Linked DNA regions of Homo sapiens: region 2 is linked to region 1. The links come from fine-mapping of genetic effects on gene expression. Tissue or cell type: whole blood. Region 1 holds a variant in brackets; the other region holds the start of a gene. All regions are shown on one strand. Distances are from middle to middle.

The links. PIP is the estimated chance that this variant, and not a neighbour inherited with it, causes the effect.
Region 2: it holds the start of SBK1, and the variant in region 1 is fine-mapped to the expression of SBK1 in whole blood (INTERVAL, PIP above 0.99).

Annotation. Positions count from the first base shown.
Region 1 is chr16:28,270,646-28,273,403 of GRCh38, forward strand. It overlaps a transcript of SBK1 not described here. Among named protein-coding and RNA genes, the nearest start is that of SBK1, 20 kb to the right of the region's middle. The variant T/C (reference allele first, on the strand shown) is at 1,321.
Region 2 is chr16:28,290,879-28,293,636 of GRCh38, forward strand. SBK1 (SH3 domain binding kinase 1) reads left to right here and starts at 1,647. Exons shown (of 4, transcript NM_001024401.3): 1 at 1,647-2,422. It overlaps LOC124903670 (a long non-coding RNA gene), which reads right to left and starts at 1,187. Exons shown (of 2, transcript XR_007065033.1): 1 at 889-1,187. RefSeq lists silencers at 1,139-1,310, 1,518-1,747.

The DNA of each region.
Region 1 (2,758 bases):
ACTCCTGGCTCAAGTGATCCTCCCATTTCAGCCTCCCAAAGTGCTGGGATTACAGGCATGAGCCACTGTGCCCAGCCCTCAGCATAGAATTCAATACTTAGCCAAACTACTAATAAAGTGAGAGTAGAAAAAACAATATTTTCAGATTGGCAAGAGCTCAAAAATTTTACCTCCTATGCACCCTTTCTTATTTATTTATTTATTTATTTATTTATTTATTTATTTATTTATTTTTTGAGACGGAGTCTTGCTCTGTTGCCCAGGCTGGAGTGCAACAGCGTGCTCTCCGCTCACTGCAAGCTCCGCCTCCCGGGTACATGCCATTCTCCTGCCTCAGCCTCCCGAGTAGCTGGGACTACAGGCGCCCGCCACCACGCCTGGCTAATTTTTTGTACTTTTAGTAGAGACGGGGTTTCACCATGTTAGCCAGGATGGTCTCGATCTCCTGACCTTGTGATCCACCCGTCTCAGCCTCCCAAAGTGCTGGGATTACAGGCGTGAGCCACTGCACCCGGCCTACGCACCCTTACTTGAGAAAGCTACTGGAGGATGTACTCCACTAAAATAAGGGAGTAAACCAAGTAAAACAAGAAATAGTAAACAAGAAAAACAATAAAGAGTAAGACCTGGGCCAGGAGTAGTGGCTCACACCTGTAATCTTAGCACTTTAGGAGGCCAAAGCAGGCAGATCACCTGAGGTCGGGAGTTGAAGACCAGCCTGGCCAACATGGTGAAACCCCATTTCTACTAAAAATACAAAAATTAGCTGGGCATGGTGGCACACGCCTGTAATCTCAGCTACTTGGGAGGCTGAGACAGGAGAATCACTTGAACCTGGGAGGCGGAGGTTGCAGTGAGCCAAGATCACACCACTGCACTCCAGGCTGGGTGACAGAATGCGACTCCGTCCCCCCACCCCCAAAAAAGAGAGTAACATCTGGACTCCAGGAAACAGGAATTGAATGTAAGAGAGAGGAGAAGAGAATCTCGCAGTTCACACTCAAATAAGAGAAGAGATCTCTTCAAGGAGATGAAATTGATAGAATACCTAATGTTTTTGAATTTTGGAGACATTTACACAAGTAGGGGAGAATATGGGTTGACTGATATATAAACATGTAGGTAAACAAGTACTCCCCTCTCCAAAAAATGTTATCAAATCCAGGAAAACCGAAACTTTTGAACAGAAAAGGGAAAGAAATTTAAAATGAAAATTTCTGCCCTGCAAAAGACTCTGCCAAGAGAATGTGAAGAGAAGCCACAGAATGGCAGAAAATATCAAGTGCTCCTTGGTATTTACCCAAATAAGTTGAAAATTTA[T/C]GCCCACAGAAAATCCTGCACATGAATATTTGCTAGTTTCGTTTTACTGTGGTAAGGACACTTAATGAAATTTGTCCTCCTAACATATTTTTAAATGTACAATACATGTATAATACATGGTTGTTTTTTTGAGACATGGTCTTACTCTGTTACTGAGGCTGGAGTACAATCACAGCTCACTGCAGCCTCCATCTCCTGGGCTCAAGCAATCCTCCATCCTCAGCCTCCAGAGTAGCTGGGACTACAGATGCATGCCACCATGTCCAGTTAATTTTTAAATTTTTTATAGGGACAGAGTTTCGCTATGTTGTCCAGGCTGGTTTCGAACTCCTGGGCTCAAGTGGTCCTCTAGCCTCAGCCTCCCAAAGTGCTGGGATTCCAGGTGTGAGCCCCTGGTACAGAGTTACACAGCAGCTCTTTAGAGCTTATTCATCTTGCTTTATTGAATCTTTATGCCTACTGATGAGCTATTCCCCAATTTCTTCTGCAACTCTGACAACTATAGAACCAAAATCTAGGAATTAGACTTCTTTAGATATCCCATATAAGTGGAATTATGAGATATGTGTCCTTCTGTGGCTTATTTTGCTTTGCATAATGTCCTTGAGTTTCATCTATGTTGTCACATATTTTTTTTCTTTCTTTCTTTCTTTCTTTTTTTTTTTTTTTTTTTTGAGACGGAGTCTCACTCTGTCACCCAGGCTGGAGTGCAGTGGCATGATCTTGGCTCACTGCAACCTCTGCCTCCCAGGTTCAAGCGATTCTTCTGCCTCAGCCCCCTGAGTAGCTGGGACTACAGGCATGCCCCACCACGCCTGGCTAATTTTTGTATTTTTAGTAGAGATAGGGTTTCACCATATTGGCCAGGCTGGTCTCGAACTCCTGACCTTGTGATCCACCCACTTCGGCCTCCCAAAGTGCTGGGATTACAGGCGTGAGCCACCATGCCTGGCCTGTCATCGCATATTTTTAAGGCTTAATTGTAGTAGTCCCTGTTGCATGTATAGATCACATTTTTTTCATCCATTCAACCCATTTGGGTTATTTCTACATTTGGCTATTGTGAATATTGTTGTAAAGAACACAGGAGTGCTAATACCATTTTGAGAATTATTTTTTTCTTTTTTTAGAGACAGGGTCTCATTATGTTGCCCAGGCTGGTCTCGAACTCATGGCCTCAAGCAGTCCCTTCACTTTGAACTCCCAAAGTGCTGGATTAAAGGTGTGAGCCACCGCACCTGGCCTCTCTTTCAGATTTTTTTTTTTTCTTTTGAGACAGAGTTTCTTTCTTATTGACCAAGCTAGAGTGCAATGGCGCAGTCTCGGCTCACTGCAACTTCCGCCTCCTGGGTTCAAGCAATTCTCCTGCCCCAGGCTCCCAAGTAGCTGAGATTACAGGCGTGAGCCCCCATGCCCAGCTAATTTTTGTATTTTTAGT
Region 2 (2,758 bases), 20 kb after region 1:
ATATTTCCGAATTTTGGGAATTCGTTTCAAACATTTAAAAGTTGGAAGATTTCTGGATGTCCTGCTTCTCTTTGAATATCATCCAGCCACGCACAGCCCACGATGTCTCCAGTTCCCCTCTTCTCCACCCTCTCTATCACTTTACATGCGACCCCAGTCGCTCATGTCTGCGCCTGTAGGTACTTGCGTTTGCAATCCCTGGCTCCTAAAGCTCTGGAAACAGTCGGGAGTGGCTGGGAGGATTACGCTGGGTTGAGAAAACAGCCTGATCAAAAACTTAGAAGAAATAGGGGCAGTCATAAAAAATGATGAGTTCATGTCCTTTGTAGGGACATGGATGAAGCTGGAAACCATCATTCTCAGCAAACTATCGCAAGGACAAAAAACCAAACACCGCATGTTCTCACTCATAGGTGGGAATTGAACAAAGAGAACACATGGACACAGGAAGGGGAACATCACACACCAGGGACTGTTGTGGGGTGGGGGGAAGGGGGAGGGATAGCATTAGGAGATATACCTAATGCTAAATGACGAGTTAATGGGTGCAGCACACCAACATGGCACACGTATACATACGTAACAAACCTGCATGTTGTGCATATGTACCCTAAAACTTAAAGTATAATAATAATTAAAAAAAAGAATGAAAAAGAAATGCTTTTGAAGCTTGAAGCTAAAAAAACAAAAAAAAAAGAAAGAAATAGGGAAGGCGTCCTATTGGGGCTTTCTCACTAGGGAAAGAGTGAGCTGCAGGGAGGAGAAAGAACAGGGCCTGGAAGGACGAGCTGTCCCTATCTCATCTCTGTCCCCATCCACCCACTTCATCCAGGCCACCAATTTCCGGTTATCAAACAGACAATGCAACATCCCTTACACCTGCTGTACCTCTGCCTAGAATCTCCTTTCTTCCCTTCTATCCGGCGAGCAGTTCCTCCCAGCTGCACTCCTGGACTAGTCACTGCCTATTTGCAGCAGGGATCGCAAAGGCGACCTCAGTTGGATAGGGCAACCACCCAGGCCCAAGTTTATGACCTCTTCCCCAAGAAGACTGTGAGTTCTCTGACGTCTCGCTGGAAATAGGATGCATGGATGGATGGATGGATGGATGGACGGACGGATGGATGGATGGATGGAAGCGCAGGCAGGCAGGCGGACGCATGGATGAATGAAATGCATATCCGAATGCAGAACCTGGATTTGTTTTCCCTCCTTCAAACACACACAGGCTCCGCCCCACTAGCACAGACCGGGACAGTCTGGGGCAGTCTCGTCCCGCAGGGCCCAGAAAGCTGGACCAGGTGACCCTCTCAGACTCCCCCGAGTCCTCTGTAACCTCGTTCTCGCCCCCTCGTGGGCTCTGACCTAGAAAAGGAGTGGGGTGGGTGGGGGGTGGGGGGTGGGAGCCAGCTCGGGAGCCACCGGCGCTAGGACCCAGCGCGGCCGGAAGGGGGTGGGGGCGCCGCGCGGGGAGAATCTGCGCTCCGCGGCGCGCGGCGGGAGGGCGGGCGCGCGGCGGGTGAGCGCGCTTGCGCGAGGGCGCGCGCCGAGCGGGACGGACAAAGGGGCGGGCGGCGGCGCGCGAGCCGGAGGGCGGAGCCGCGGGCCGGGCGGGCAGGTGCGCGCTGGCTGGAGGGCGGAGCCGCGATGCCGCGATGGAGCGCAGCCCGGGCGGGCGCCGGGGCCGGGGCCCGAGCGCCAGGCGGAGCGCGAGCTGGAGCCGCAGCCGGAGCCCGGGCCAGGCCGGGGGCCGGGAGCGCAGGGCCGGGCTGCTCGTAGCGGCGGCGACCGAGCCCCCCAGCGGCTGAGGGGCTTCCAGCGCCCGCCGGTGGCCGGGACCCACTAAAGCCCCCGCAGCCGAGGAGTGCGGGGAGCCCCCTTCCACATCCAGGATCCGGCGAGCCTCGGGGAAGAGGGGGGGCCCTCCCGGATCCGACACCGAGCGACTCCCCTGCGGGGAAAGCGGAGACTTCCTCGGTATTTAGAAGACAGCAAGCCCCCTACGGCACCGCAAGGACTCCCCCTCCTCAGTCTGGGCCCCCGCCCCAAGACCTAGAACGCAGTGCCCCCAGGCCGGGATTGCGAGAACCCCCTCCCAAGATCCGGTCATTACAACTCCACACCTCAAGACAAGAAGACCCAGCTCAGAACGCCCCTAGATCAGGGGATCCCAATTCCCCCCAACTCCGGTACATAGAAATCCCAAATCTAGGCAGCCGGGGACAGCAAGAGACACTCTCACCAGCAAGAAGCCTCGGGGATCCCCCCCCTAAAGCTCCAGGACTTGGGCGACTGAGCCCCTGGCGGCACCGCTTGCACCCCGGTCCATGGTCGTGGCGCCCTGAGCCCCCGGGGCCGGGCAGACGAAGACCGCGACGGCGCCCAGGCCCCCTGCCGCGGCGTCCCCGCGGCCCCAGCCCAGGTAAGCCGGGCCCAGGTGAGGGGCGGCAGGTGAGTGGCCACCGAGGTCCCCATAGCCCTGCAGGTGGGGAAGGAAGTATCGGGTTGCGCGCTCCCCCTTCCCCAGCGTCGCCATGGAGCCGAGGCTGAAGGACGTCTCTTTGTGTCTCGCTTGGAGGAGCCGCCCCCTCCTCCTCTCCCTTCCCCCACCCCACTCCCTAGCCTTGAGGCTCGGGCGCAGCTCCCCGGCCCCACGGAGGAGTGGTGGTGGAGCCCGTTGTGCCATGGAGAGGGGGGAAGAGGGCGGAGAGTCCCCCCCCAAAAGCTGCGAGCCTGGAGGTTGGCCCCCAGGTCCTTG